Linked DNA regions of Homo sapiens: all the other regions are reported to be linked to region 1. The links are microRNA targets in miRTarBase. Many come from high-throughput screens and were not tested one by one. Region 1 holds a microRNA gene; each other region holds the end of a gene's coding sequence.
Evidence for each region. Region 1 holds the annotated microRNA hsa-miR-141-5p (CAUCUUCCAGUACAGUGUUGGA, at 2,243-2,264, shown strand). A microRNA usually pairs through its seed, bases 2 to 8, with sites in the 3' UTR of a target mRNA and lowers its output. Matches are read on the target gene's strand: a 7mer-m8 pairs with bases 2 to 8, a 7mer-A1 pairs with bases 2 to 7 and ends in A, and an 8mer does both.

Region 2: miRTarBase lists TRPC4AP as a target of hsa-miR-141-5p. Seed matches in the 3' UTR shown: 8mer at 558-565.
Region 3: the mRNA of KRABD3 is a reported target of hsa-miR-141-5p. The part of its 3' UTR that is shown has no 7-base or 8-base seed match.

Annotation. Positions count from the first base shown.
Region 1 is chr12:6,961,871-6,967,683 of GRCh38, forward strand. MIR141 (microRNA 141) reads left to right here and starts at 2,227; the gene lies at 2,227-2,321. PHB2 (prohibitin 2) reads right to left here. Exons shown (of 10, transcript NM_001144831.2): 6 at 5,806-5,813; 7 at 5,301-5,378; 8 at 4,554-4,630; 9 at 4,041-4,046; 10 at 3,457-3,842. The coding sequence ends at 3,815. It overlaps MIR200CHG (MIR200C and MIR141 host gene), which reads left to right and starts at 1,375. Exons shown (of 2, transcript NR_135032.1): 1 at 1,375-1,478; 2 at 2,331-2,577. MIR200C (microRNA 200c) reads left to right here and starts at 1,829; the gene lies at 1,829-1,896. It also overlaps LOC105369634 and SCARNA12. RefSeq lists enhancers at 1-487, 1-228, 37-246, 488-1,289, 3,072-3,121 and 1 more.
Region 2 is chr20:34,999,112-35,003,358 of GRCh38, reverse strand. It overlaps TRPC4AP (transient receptor potential cation channel subfamily C member 4 associated protein), which reads left to right. Exons shown (of 19, transcript NM_015638.3): 19 at 76-955. The coding sequence ends at 213. It overlaps MYH7B (myosin heavy chain 7B), which reads right to left. Exons shown (of 45, transcript NM_020884.7): 36 at 3,954-4,247; 37 at 3,664-3,788; 38 at 3,453-3,568; 39 at 2,670-3,066; 40 at 2,466-2,591; 41 at 2,201-2,371; 42 at 2,010-2,114; 43 at 1,833-1,928; 44 at 1,274-1,411; 45 at 922-1,182. The coding sequence ends at 1,171. Among named protein-coding and RNA genes, the nearest start is that of MIR499B, 11 kb to the right of the region's middle. RefSeq lists an enhancer at 4,098-4,247.
Region 3 is chr7:149,733,818-149,738,064 of GRCh38, forward strand. It overlaps KRABD3 (KRAB domain containing 3), which reads left to right. Exons shown (of 17, transcript NM_001290187.2): 17 at 1-758. The coding sequence ends at 230. Among named protein-coding and RNA genes, the nearest start is that of KRABD3, 21 kb to the left of the region's middle. RefSeq lists an enhancer at 1,244-2,160.

The sequences.
Region 1 (5,813 bases):
AAGAGTAGTTAACAGCCGGAAGCGCAGACCTGAGGCCAGCCCGGCTGCGTCCCCTCTGGCGGGAACAGGGACAGGCTCCTCAGAGCACCCGGGCACGCCCAGCTCCTCCCCTCATCCAGGCCGCTGCTGCCCTTATCCTCTTGGGCAGAGTTTGAAGAGCTGGCTGACGTGAAGAGTGCTTTGTTTTTTGTCCCCTCTTCCTTCCCCCATGTCAGGAGTGGGGTTTCTTCTTTATTTGAAACACTGGTGTCCTGGGGAGTAAAGCCGGTGGGAGTCATCCCTCAGGAAGTGCTGGCGCCCACTCCTGGAAAGGCTGAGACAGCACAGGTCCCAAAGCCCAGAGGCTGGGCGTGCATTACTCAGCAAATCCTTACAGAGCCCCCGGCGTCACAGGCATTCACAGTCCCCCGACCTCCTGGAACTTAGGAGGCTGGTCAGGGAGACAGATTCACAAACCGATCACAAGCATCAAATAATTGCAGGCGGGTATTAAGAAGGAAGCAAACAAAGCCTGGGAGAGAGAACAGCGAGGGATTGAGCAACCCAATAGCTCCCTGGGGCTGTGGCCCTCCAGGGCACGGGTGGGGCAATCACCTGTCGGGCCCAGGTCCCCTCTCCCAGCAACGCCCTTTCTATACAAGCCGCAGCTGCACAAAGGCAAGTCCCACCTCCTCTAACCGCCCTTGGGCTACCTGCCCTTGGGGTGGGACTTGGACTCCACTGAGGGCTGTGCTGTGAGGTGGGTCCGGGAGCAGCTCGGTCCGGAGAGTGGAGCGCGATCGTTCCCTCTGCAGGCCTCAATCGAGGGGCAAGGCTGATGCTCCGGGCCAGCTGGGGTCTCTGGGTAGCGGTGGGTAACTTCACACTAGCGACACCTTGCTGGGACCCGCCTGCCCTTCACAGGCCTGGCGGGGCCTTCTCCCTCCCCTTTCCCTCAGGGGATCCCAGCACAGGCTGGGCACTGCGGGGCGGCACAGCCCAACTCCTGCCCAGCTGACCCCTCGCTGACCTCAGGGATCTCTCTGGCCTGCAGCTCCGCTGTGGGCAGGGTCTGAGGCCACAGAGGAATGGGCTAGTCCTGGGGGCAGCATCTGCTGTGGGGAGGGGACCCAAGGACAGCCCCCGCTTTTTGTACCTCTGGAGACAGGGGTGAGACTAGGCAGGTTGGAGAAAAGAGGCCCCTGGGAGAGGGTGGGAGGCCTAGAGGAGTGGCCAAGCCTTAGAGGAGGTGCCCGTGGCTGGCGCTGGGAGGGAAGGGGTTAAGGCAGTGGGGGGGCAGCCTATGGCAGGAGGACACACCTGTGCGCAGGGTGGCAGGCGGGGCCCAGGTAAGGAGCCTGCGCTGGCTGCCCGGCAGGCGGAGAAGGAAGGAGGAAGAGCGGAGGCCAGGGCGGGCTCTAGGCCGTGGAATCTGGGGCCTTAAAGCCCCTTCGTCTCCCCAGCACCCACTCTCTGGGGGCAGGTGGGCCCGGTGACAGGTAAAGGCCACCAGGGGAGAGGTCCTGGGCTGAGCTTGGGACTGCAGAGGGGGGATGAGGGTGGGTAAATCGGTGTGTGTCGCGGGTCGGGAAAGGCTGCCGGGGGTAGGGGAAGGTGGCTCAGAGGCGGCGGGCCGACGGTCGAGGGGCTTCGGAGGGCCTGCTTGGACTGCAACCTGGGCCTCGTGATCAGCGACCCAGGGTGTGGCTGGTGGCGGGCAGCAGGGCTCACCAGGAAGTGTCCCCAGGGACTCGGGTGGTGGGGGGATGGGAGCCAGGGATCTGCAGCTTTTCCGCAGGGATCCTGGGCCTGAAGCTGCCTGACCCAAGGTGGGCGGGCTGGGCGGGGGCCCTCGTCTTACCCAGCAGTGTTTGGGTGCGGTTGGGAGTCTCTAATACTGCCGGGTAATGATGGAGGCCCCTGTCCCTGTGTCAGCAACATCCATCGCCTCAGGTCCCCAGCCCTTAGCTGGCTGCAGCCCCCTCCCCACTTCCCACGCACCCCGGAAGCCCCTCGTCTTGAGCTGAGAGCGTTGCACAAGGGGTGGTTCTTGTTGGCTGGCTGCCACTAAGGGACACAATGGGCCCCAGCCCCTCCTCCCACCCAGTGCGATTTGTCACCTGGTGGATCCAGAACCCACAGTCGACCTTGAGCTTGGGGTTGGCTCGCCCCCTCTCAAGAGACCTCACCTGGCCTGTGGCCAGGGTCCCCTGTAGCAACTGGTGAGCGCGCACCGTAGTTCTCTGTCGGCCGGCCCTGGGTCCATCTTCCAGTACAGTGTTGGATGGTCTAATTGTGAAGCTCCTAACACTGTCTGGTAAAGATGGCTCCCGGGTGGGTTCTCTCGGCAGTAACCTTCAGGGAGCCCTGAAGACCATGGAGGACTACTGACCAACAACCTCTGACCTTCACCCCTCTGGATGGGGGACGAATCACTAGGCAAAGGGGAACAATGGGAAGGAGACAAAATGGCTGCCTTTACAGCTGCAGCAAGATGTGGAAACACTGGTTCCCTAGGCACCTCCATTGTCTTCCCGCCTTGGGAGCATGAAATAAATAAAGTGTGAAGGGGAACATGAGGAAGACTGATCCAAGTCACTTGACCTGTCTTTTGTCTAGTTGTTTATCTCATCTTAGCCTCCCAGCAACTCAGGATTGGGGCTGCGACGTCTGCTTTGTCTTTCATGATACTCAACCCCAAGCAGAGAAAAATATCTTAAAAATCGAAGCAGATTAACCCAGTCCCTCTGTTCAGATCCACCTGCTGCCCTATCTGCATTTGGCAGTTCCTGGACATACTTTGCACCTATGTTTTGTCTGAGTTCCACATCTTCCTTGTCTCCCCGCAGGGATGGGAAATGGGCAGTAGTGGGAGATTCAGGTATAAACGGTGGCTCTGTTTCTCTGGTGCCTGAGATTCGGGAAGGCCTGTCTTGGGAAGATAAGTGTCAGCTTATCTGTGGACTGAACAGACAGGCACCTGTTCTGTTGGCCCCGGAACTGCGGGCATGAAAAGCCCACCTCCCCAGGGGAGGCCTGTTAGCTAGCAGCTCCTCACGCCTGGTGACTGAGAAATGGAGTCTGGGGGGCCTACAGCAGGCCACGCGATCCACTGGGCTTCTGGGCACAGAAGTGCCTCAACAGGCACAGGCAGGCTCCCCACAGCCACAAGGAACCCTGCTGCCAAGGAAGCAGCTCCTGTTGGGGTCATCAGATTTTTAATCTGGCTCAGCAAAGCCATGGCTGTCCAGCCTTAAAAAAATGGGTGATGTGGGAGAAATGGAGGGTGTGTGAAGAGCACAGCTGGGCCTCGAGAACTCAGGGCCAGCCTTCCCAGCTTGGGTCCTGTTTCGGAGCCCAGGCCTTGCTTCCCCTTAGCCGCCCCAGCCAGATTCTTTTGCGCCCCCTGCTGGCACACACAAAGACAGACCCAGGAGCGCACATGTGAACGTGCGCATGCTTGCTGCCAGTTACCCAGTTCATGAACACGTGAAGCCTTGACTTCAGGTTAAGTAATAAAAATTTATTGAGAATTCCTGGGTTGGTGTTTATCTCCTCCCAGCCTTGAGGGAGGGAACAACACTGTAGGAAATCACTGAGAAATCACGCACTGTCCCCAACAGCCCCAGTTAACACAGGGAGGAGGAAAGTAATTCCCCAGAAAAGGGGCTAGTCTTCAGTCTTCCTTAATCCAAGAGGGGTTCAGGGAACCGGTGTGGGGGACCATCGCATGATACTGGGGCGGGGTAGGGCTGTGCTGGACCCCTGGCTGGCTCCTCAAAAACTGGAGAAGCAGATCCACTTCCTCTGGGGGTGGAGTTCTTGGTGACTAGGCTCATTTCTTACCCTTGATGAGGCTGTCACTGTAGGAAAAAAAAGATAGATAATGACATTATTAGGGGACATAAATGTGAGAGGCAGGACACTCTAGGCCATTCCCTCTACGACCCTCCTACCCTGATTGAGGGTTTGTCTTCGGGGAGGTGGGAAAGGGGGTAGGGTAGGAGGCGGGTACTGGAGAAGGTGGCCTGCAGGACCCCACAGAAGCAACAACAGCTTACCTTCCCCTGTGGTGCCAGATCGCCAGATGAACAAGAAACAGAGAAGAGAAATGCACATGTTAATTGACAGCTTCAGGCCCCACTCAGCTTTGAACCCTCCTTTGCTCCCAAGAGAAAAGATAAACAGGGTTGACAGCCAGGAATCTCAGGCTCATGAAAGGAGGAGGCATGTTCTCATGGCCACTGCTATTTCTCATCTCCTTTCCTAACATCCCTCCATTCACCAGAGGAGTTTGAGGGCTCTTGAGTAAGAAAACTGAGTATCATCTTTCATCACTTTTTGGTTAGATGAAAACTTTATAATTAAAGTGCTTTTTATGTGAATAATCCTATTTGATCTCATAAAATCAATCCTATGAGATGCAAGATAGAAACTGTCAACCACCCCCTTTTCTAATTTTGGTTCAATGTCTCTGAGCCATATGAATAGCTGTAGCAGGCTCCAGAGCCCAAACAACCAGACTCAGGTCCCACGTTCTTGGTGATACCCCACAGTGTGGCCACATCTCTCACCTGGTGAAACTTTCATCCTGTAGGTTCAGCACAAGGTTGTCAGCTGTGAGATAGATACGATTCTGTGATGTGGCGATCTACAGGGCAGGAAATAAGACAGATGCTTGCATTAAGCAAAGACCTCAATTCCGACCCCTGCAATTCAGCAGCTACTTAACATGGAACACATGCAGATTAGGGCAGGGGTGCAGCAATGAGTAACACATGGTTTCTGCTCGCACTTAGGGATCCAGAGCGCTGAGCAGCAGCTATGATTAGAACAAAAGGTCAGGGAACCCAGAGGAATCATTCTTGACAGGAGGAGTATCGGAGAAGCCAATTTTTTATTTATTTATTTTTGAGACGGAGTCTTGCTCTGTTGCTCAGGCTGGAGTGCAGTGGCATGATCTCAGCTCACTGCAACTTCCGCCTCCTGGGTTCAAGTGATTCTCCTGCCTCAGCCTCCTGCGTAGCTGGGAATATAGCTAAACGCCACCACAGCGGGCTCATTATCTTTTGTATTTTTAGTAGAGATGGGGTTTCACCATGTTGGCCAGGCTGGTCTCGAACTCCTGACCTCAGGTGATCCACCCACCTTGGCCTCCCAAAGTGCGGGGATTACATGCGTGAGCCACCGCGCCGGCCAGAGAAGCCAATCTGAGTAGAAACCGGAACAAGCAAGGTTCGAATTCCCTCACCTCAATGTGCCTTAACTGAAAGCACTTTCTCAAGGCAGCCCCATCAGAGACGCTGGGCTGACACACTCACCGTCTTGGAGATATTCTGGGCTGCTCGAATCTTGCGAAGTTTGATGTAGCCAGGGTTCTTGCTCAGTGCTTCTCCAAGGTGAGGAGGGTTAAGGTACACGCAAGGGCAGGTCTCAATCCCTGGCCCTGTCCTTACCACACTCCCTTGCTCCAGTCCTCCTCTGGGCTGTCAGATCCAAGGTTGCGCTCAGGTGGCTTGTGCCCAGCCCTACCGTGGACCCCACCTGTGGGCCTCCCTGCAGGCTGCTGCCAGGAACTAGGGGCAGCACCAGAAATGAAGGCAAGGCCACCAATGCTATTGATCTGGCCTTACAGTGGGGAGTCATGGCTCAGGTACTACCACTAAGATTTCAGATCTCATCTGTAGTCCCCACCCCCAACAAGGAGCCAAGGGCCAGAGAGCACGGAGTCGCATTCGCCTTAGTCTCATCAGCCTGCCCATGAAGGAGAATGGGGAACTCAGGTGCCCTAGGGGCTGGGCTGAGATCTCTCCAGCAGAAGGATATCATCTTGG
Region 2 (4,247 bases), not on the chromosome of region 1:
TCTCAGAGGGGTGTCCCGGTGCTGGGCTTGACCTGGGTCCTCCAGGCGCCCCCCAGCCCCTCCCTCTTTGCCCAGAGCTCCTGCATCAGCTTCTCATACTGGAAGGAGACAGTGTCCATCCTGTTGAACCCGGACCGGCAGTCACCCTCTGCTCTCGTTAGCTACATTGAGGAGCCCTACATGGACATAGACAGGGACTTCACTGAGGAGTGACCTTGGGCCAGGCCTCGGGAGGCTGCTGGGCCAGTGTGGGTGAGCGTGGGTACGATGCCACACGCCCTGCCCTGTTCCCGTTCCTCCCTGCTGCTCTCTGCCTGCCCCAGGTCTTTGGGTACAGGCTTGGTGGGAGGGAAGTCCTAGAAGCCCTTGGTCCCCCTGGGTCTGAGGGCCCTAGGTCATGGAGAGCCTCAGTCCCCATAATGAGGACAGGGTACCATGCCCACCTTTCCTTCAGAACCCTGGGGCCCAGGGCCACCCAGAGGTAAGAGGACATTTAGCATTAGCTCTGTGTGAGCTCCTGCCGGTTTCTTGGCTGTCAGTCAGTCCCAGAGTGGGGAGGAAGATATGGGTGACCCCCACCCCCCATCTGTGAGCCAAGCCTCCCTTGTCCCTGGCCTTTGGACCCAGGCAAAGGCTTCTGAGCCCTGGGCAGGGGTGGTGGGTACCAGAGAATGCTGCCTTCCCCCAAGCCTGCCCCTCTGCCTCATTTTCCTGTAGCTCCTCTGGTTCTGTTTGCTCATTGGCCGCTGTGTTCATCCAAGGGGGTTCTCCCAGAAGTGAGGGGCCTTTCCCTCCATCCCTTGGGGCACGGGGCAGCTGTGCCTGCCCTGCCTCTGCCTGAGGCAGCCGCTCCTGCCTGAGCCTGGACATGGGGCCCTTCCTTGTGTTGCCAATTTATTAACAGCAAATAAACCAATTAAATGGAGACTATTAAATAACTTTATTTTAAAAATGACTGCTGTGGACCTGGCTTTTGTCCCTAGGACTGTGTTTTTCCTCCTGAACCCCAAAGAAAAGAATGAGAAGGAAACTGGCTGTGGTGTTTATTCAGGGCCCAGGGAAGGCTGAAGGCAGCAGGGGGCGATGCAGAGATGGCAGGATCGGGGCAGGTGGCCTCAGCCAGATGTGCAACAGCAGACATTCCTCTTTAGAGCCCAGGGGGTCAGGCCGTCACTCCTTGTGCTGAGGAGAAAGGGATAGCTGAGTGAGCAGTACTACCTGTCAGCCCCCACAGTCCCCCTGCACAGAGAGCAATGCCCCTGCCACTCCTCACCTTGGGGCCCAGGGCGTCCCGGGTCCGTGCCCGCAGCTTGTTGGCCTGGGTTTCCGCCATGTCTGCCCGCTCCTCCGCATCATCCAGCTCGTGCTGGGCCTTGCGATACTTGGCCAGGTTGGTGTTGGCCTGCTGCTCCTGGGGGCACACACAGGGCCTTGGTTCCGCTTGGGTGACTGAGATGCTTATTCTGGTCCCTGCCCCAGTCCAAGAAGGGAGCTAGCTCCTCCTGGTTCTCAACTTTGTTCCTATTGCCACTGTCCATCCTCACCAATACCACAGCGGGAATAAGGAAGTTGGGACGCACCAACTTCATGTGCCTTTTTGTGCCTGCCCCACCCCTCAGAGGCAGCCCCAGCCTTGGCCAGGGGAAAGCACATGGGGTCTGTTCCATGAGAAGGAGCTAGGTCTGATCTCCCCAGAGATGTTAGAAGCTTCTCTCTTCCCTCTGGGTCACTGACCTTGGAGGGTGGAGCTGCTGCTGATGCCTCACCTGGCCACAGACCCTGGGGCAGAGCTGGGGTGCCCGGTCCAGGTGTCCAGGCCCCAGCGCACTCACCGCCTCCTCAAACTGGCGCTTGTAGCTCTTGACCTTGCTCTGCAGCTTGTCCACCAGGTCCTGCATGCGAGCCAGGTTCTTCCTGTCCTCCTCGGCCTGGGCGGGCAAGGGGGACTCAGGGCTTGCTTGGGCTGGGCCAGCTCCAGGGCCACTCCCCAGGGAGACCCTGTCGCCCACCTGGTATGCGAGCTCCTTGACACGGCGCTCATGCTTGCGCACGCCCTTAAGGGCCTCGGCGTGCTTCTTCTGCTCTGCATCAAGCTCAGCCTCCAGCTCCCGTACCTGCAGGCAGGGGGACAGCCTGATGCCAAGCCCACCCCTGGGTCACCCACCCTGCCTGCGCCAAGGACTAGAGGGGCTGCACACACCTTGGCCTCCAGCTTCTGCACCTGCTTCTTCCCGCCACGGAGGGCGGCCTGTTCTGCCTCCTCAAGGCGGGCCTGGAGCTCGCGCACCGTCTGCTCCAGCGTCTTCTTCATCCGTTCCAGGTGTGCACTTGTGTCCTGCTCCTTCTTCAGCTCCTCGGCCATCATGGCCGCCTGTTGGGGAGGAGGAGCTGGTCAGGTGCCCAGCCTCAGGGAAGTCCCTCTGCAATTCTGTCCCAGGCTCCCCACAGCCCTTGCCCAGCCTCACATCAGTGATGGCCTTTTTGGCCTTCTCCTCAGCCTCCCGCCTCTCCTGTGCAGCCTCCTCCACCTCCCCGCTCAGCTGGGCCAAGTCCGCCTCCAGCTTCTTCTTCTGGTTTAGGAGGCCTGTGTTCTGAGGGGAAGAGGAGTCTCAGAGCCAGCCAGCCAGCAGGCCTGCACCTGCTCTGTCCCCAGGGACTCCTGTCCCCACCTGCGAATGCAGAAGGTTGAGGCGCTCGGTGGCCTCCAAAAGCTCCTGCTCTGCCAGTCGCCGGCTGCGCTCGCCCTGCTCCAGGGCAGCCCGCAGCTCCTCCAGCTCCGCAGCCAGCAGCGAGGCCCGGCGCTCCAGAGCCTGCGCCTGCTCGTGGAGCTCAGCTGCCAGCCGCTGCTCCTCGTCCCGCCCTGCCTGCTCCTCCTTGAGCTGTGCCTGCATCAGCCGCGTGGCAGCCTGGGCCTCTGTGGCCTGACGGGTGGCATGGCCCAGCTGCAGCTCCAGGTCGTTGAGGTCACCCTCCATCTTCTTCTTGAGCCGCAGCGCCTCATTGCGGGCCCGTGTCTCTGCATCCAGGGAGGCCTGCAGGGACTCCACAGCTCGCTGGTGGTTGCGCCTATGGGAGGAGGGTGGCATGAAAGGGGGTCTCGTAAGGGCATACCTGTCCTTACAAATGCCCAAGGACCGTTGGAAACGAACCCATTTTGAGAACAAATGAGTCACCCCTCCCCGATTTAAAGTCTCTTGTGACTGCCTGTGGCCCATCAGAGCAAGTTCATGGACAAGAGTGAGGCCCAGGCAGACAGAGGTGGACTGACTGGCTCCACCCCCACTGTGTGACTTTGGGCAAGTCCTTTAGCATCTCCGAGGTTCACAGCTAGAATGGAGACAGCAACCCGGACCTCAAAGTCCCATGGGAGGGACAGACTAGAGAGCAGAGTACACACTGCTTCCCTCCCCTTCTGCTCTCGGGAGGTGGGGACGGGAGAAGGATGGACACACCTCAGGTTAGCGCACTCCTCGTCTTTCTCTGCCAGCTTCCGGTCCACTTCTGCTTTGACCTGGGAGAGCTCCAGCTGGATCCGCAGCGTCTTGGTCTCCTCCAGCTCCAGGGCCCCCTGTGGATACAGAGCAGGCAGGGTAGGGTGGGGGGGGGGGATGGCCAGTGGAGCAGCAGGTCAGTGTCCACCCACCCCTGCAGCCAGCCCCTGACCTCTGCCTCCTCCAGTGCAGCCTGGATCTCACTCTTCTCGCCTTCCAGCGCCTTCTTGGTTTTCTCCAGTTCCTGGATGCTCTTCCCACTGAGACTCACCTGGTCTGTGAGGTCGCTGATCTCCTCTGCAGTGGACAGGGTGCTGAGAGGCCACCCCCATGGCTTGTACTCCCACCCAGGTCACTCCACTCACCCCTGATTCCAGGGTGGCCCCACCAGGGCACCCCCATAACTCAAAGTTGCTCCGACCCCAGGGCAGCACCCTGGCCCTGGCGTGTGGCAGGTCCTACCCTGCAGGTTCTTGTTCTCCCGCTTGAGCGTCTCCAGGGCTTCAAGTGCCTCCTCGTGGCCGTGCCGCAGCCGGAAGAGCTCGGTGCCCAGGCCACGGGACTCCCTCTGTGCCGCCTCCAGCTCCCGCTGCATCTCCTCCTCCTGCCGCCGCCGTTCCTCCAGTGCCCGTTCCAAGTGCCGCTGCTTCTTGTCCAGCGCAGCAGCTGCTGAGGTCGCCCGCTCCAGCTCCAGGGTTACATCCTCTGACTCTGTCTGTAGCCGCAGCTTGGCCTTCTCCAACGATGAGCACTTGG
Region 3 (4,247 bases), not on the chromosome of region 1:
GGGGCCACCAGAGCCCCCTTCCCCCTTTAGTGCCTGCTGCCTTACCCCTGCAGGGAGCCTCTCCTCCTGCAGCCAGTGCAGATGCAGACGTGCCGACCTCAGGAGTGGCACCAGACGGGATCCCAGAGCGGCCCAAGGAGCCGAGCAGCCTGCTGGGAGGAGTGCAGAGGGCCCTCCAGGAAGAACTGTGGGGTGGGGAGCACAGGGACCCGAGATGGGGGGCGCATTGATGGCATTCCTCTTCTCCACATCTGCTCGTTCTTGCCGAGGGTGCAGTGGTGGCGTGGAAGCCCTGTCACCCCACCCCAGGCCACCCTCTCCCAGAGGACGCCATCTCCCTTACTGTTGCTGGGAGCCTCGCCCTTTGTCCCAACTGGGTAGAGCCCCCAGGTGCTGTTTGCTCAGGAGGCTGCTGTGGGGGTGCCTTCCTCAGCCTCTGGCCCTCTTGGCTCAGATTCAATCAAATGTTGCTTCCCTCTCCTGTCTTTCCCACTGGAGCCGCCCAAGCTTGTAGGTGGGTGGTGTGCATAGGCCACGTGTGCCCCACATATGCAGGGGGTGCCCCACACAGCTAGAGCGGCCAGGAGAGCGCCTCCTAACCACCAGCCGTTCCTGATCTCAGGAGCCTTGAAGGGCTGGGCTCTTGCCTTCCTGGAGTAAATATTGGCACAGATTTCATTTGAGAGAACTCAGCCCCCTGGTCTAAGCTGGACTTACCTCTGTGGATTCTGAAATTAAAGAAGTGAGTTGCTAAGGAAGGCCCTGACTCCTATAGAAGGGAGGTCCATGTGGGCCCACGCTGGGGCGGGGCTGGTTGTGCCACCAGCACGCTGCCTCGTCTCCCAGACATCCTCGAGAACATTCAGGAGTGTGCCAGGAAGGGTGGGGCAATTCCCACAGGACTCCTGGGGCACACTCTGAGTCCCCTGGGGCTGCCTCACAGAGGAACCCTGCCTGGGCAGCTTCAACAGCAGCACATATTGTCTCTGTCCTGGAGGCCAGAAGTCTACAATCCAGGTGTCAGGTTCAGTTCCTGCTTTGGGCTGGGAGGGAGGATCGGTCCCGGACCTCTCCCCTTGACCTGTAGATGGCTGTCTTCCTGTTCAGATGGTGTTTTCTACACAGCTGTCTCCAGATTTCCCCTTCATATCAGGGCAGCAGTTGTATGGGGTTATGACCCACCCTAATGACTTCATTTTAACCTGATTACCTCTCTAAACACCCCCTCTCCAAGTGAGGTCACATTTGGAGGTACTGGAGGTTAGGCCTTCACCATACACATTTGGGGAGGGGCACAGTTCAGCCTGTAACACACCAAACGGGCTGGGCCAGTCTTCCTGGTTTTGTCTTGGGAAAAGACATGACCAGGTATCACTAGCCCACTTCTGTCCTGGTTACCGGAATGTGCCTGCTCCCAGCCCGCTCAGCTGGCGCTTGGCAATGCGTTGGAACCAGCCTGCCTGTCATTCCCTTGCATCATCTTCCCAAGAGGCAGAATGCAACCTGTGTGCCCCCAAATCCCTTATTTGACCTGAGGTGGTTTCAGGACCTGTATGTGCACCTGTTGACTGGCAGGGCCAGCCTGGTGTGGACTGGCAGGGCCAGCCTGGTGTGGACTGGCACACTTGGCCCTGTCCTCAGGTCCCTGAGGAGCCTGGGACACCAGCACTGTGGCCTGGGGCAATGCTGGCTGCCCACCATGACTACAGGAGCAGTGCCTTGTGGCTGCAGCGCCCAGTGTGTCCCTCAAGTCAGGGTCACTGGGGACACACTCGGGGCCTAAGTGCCCTGCAGCTGAGCTTGGGAGCTGAAGCCCTTGCTCTTTGCCACCCTGTAGAAGCAGCAGGGCAAGGACACCTGTCAGAGGGGAATGCCCGCAACAGACTGAACATCACAAAGGGATGGGAAGATGCTTTCAGGACTAGAGTGAGCCCCGAGGTGACTGTCTGGAAACAGATCCTAAGACCATACAAGTAGGATGTTTGTTGAAATACGGAGGCTGTTCGCTCACAGCCGTGCTTGCACAGAATCAGGAAGGGAAAGTTTCTAGGTTGCTCCTGCCTGAGGAGCTCTCCTTCTAATAAGCAGGGAGCAGTGCCGGGCACGTTTCAGAGCCACGGCAAGGGGTGGGACACAGTTTCAGAGGGGGGTTGAGAAGCGAAACTGCCCCTGCCCTGACTCTGGCTGTGAGGAGAGGACTCTTGCCCACCCCTGCTGCAGCTGGTGCAGTCCCATCGTGCCTGCCTGTCCTCCCATTCTCCTTTCCCTTCTAAGCAGGGGTCACTGGGCTGTCGACTCAATGGGAGGGGGGGTCACCTTACACTTCTGTGTGGCACATTAAGGTGGTTTTGCTTTGCTGGCTTCCGAAACAGCCACCACGCAAACCCTAGTTGACAGGCACGACTGAACAAATGAGCATGGTGGCTGTAAGTGACTGTCACAGTTAGGCAGCCTTCAACCAGCAGAGCTAGGAAGAGAGCTCGAGCCCTCACCAGTGCCGCCAGCACTCGGCGCATCCTCACCCTGGGCACAGATGCCCCCTCCCAGCCTTTGCCTGCTGGGACAGACCAGGGTATTCAGGACTGAGCCTGGTCTAGGTGGTCCAGACCCAGTTGGACCATATAATAAGTTTAAAGTTGTTTTAAGAATGTGGATTCTAAGTAATAAGTGGTAAGAAGTTCCATGGTCTGCAGCTGCGTTCCTCCTGCAGAAGCAGTTCCCTAGGTCTAGGTCTCCAGGACCTGTCCACAGTCACTGAAACGCCTTCTAGAATTGATCTAGTGGAAAATCTAGATGCAGTTTAGGTCTTTGGCACTGTGCCCATCTCCTTTAAGAACTGTGCAGTGTGGCTTGGAAGAGGAAATGTGGTCCCTTTGATGGGAGAAACTGAAGGACCTTTTTGAACTCAAAGGAGCTCCAGGGTTTGGAATTGGGGGCAGAGAAGGCTCCAGGCTGCTCATTCCATCCTGGGTGAGCCGAACGGGTCCTGGCTGATCTGAGTGCGACCTTCCCAGTCTGCCAGCCAGAGTCCCCCAGCAGGCAGGAACATGTGAAGGTTCCGCTTCAAAATATGAATGAATGGGCTCCTCGTGCCCCTATTATTTTCTGGCCACCCCCAGGGGTCCTGATGGAAGGGAGGCTGGCCTGCGGGGTGCAAGAACCACGATTCACTGCTCCCCGCTGAAGGTGCTTGGTCAAGAGCAGCAGGCATGCTGTTAACCTTTGTGCGGGTTTGTGTTTTGGATGTGGCTCCTATGCACAACCTATGGATTTTATCTCATAAACCATCTTGACAGATTTTGCTCGTCAACTGGGAGCCCTTAATCCATTTAAATGTAATTGACTGACTGATTTATTGAGGCTTTAACAGACTTTCTTACTTTGTGCTTTTTGTTTGTCCCACCTCTTCCGAGGGGGCTTCTCTTCCCTGCCTTATTTTGTATTAACACTGTTGTGGGTTAAAAAAAAAATCCATTTTTTCCTCTGCTGGCCTCAAAATGTAAAGAACTAAAAGGAGAAACACCCAAATTCACAATCATATTTGGGAGGTTTTAGCATATCTTTCTCTGAAAATGATGGAACAAATTGGGAGGGATGTAGAAGATTCGAACAAACTCCTTAACAAAATTGGCCTGATTGAGGCCCGTATAGGACAGTACACCATGGGGCCGGGTGCGGTGGCTCACACATGTAATCCCAGCACTTTGGGAGGCCGAGGCGGATGGATCACTTGAGGCCAGGAGTTCCAGACCAGCCTGGCCAACACAGTGAAACTCTGTCTCTACAAAAAATACAAAAATTAGCTGGGCATGGTAGCATGCACCTGTAATCCCAGCTACTTGGGAGGCTGAGACACGAGAATCGCTTGAACCCGGGAGGCAGAGGTTGCAGTGAGCTGAGATCATGCAACTGCACTGCAGCCTGTGTAAAGAGTGAAACTCCATCTCAAACAAGCAAACAAAAACTGTGTGCCATGGGACTGCTTAATATACATTCTCTTCAAGCATACACAGGACATTTACAAAAATTGACCATATATTAAGCCCTACAGTAAGTGTAAATAAATTTAAAATATTGAAATTATATAGGGTATGTTCTCTGACAATACTTTTACCTTTTAAGCTAGAATTAAATAATAACCAGAAATTCTTATATATTCAAAAATGAGAATTATGCTGCTAAAATAACCCATGTGTCAATGAAGAAATCATAATGGAAATTAAAAATGTTTCCCACCATGAAGGAAG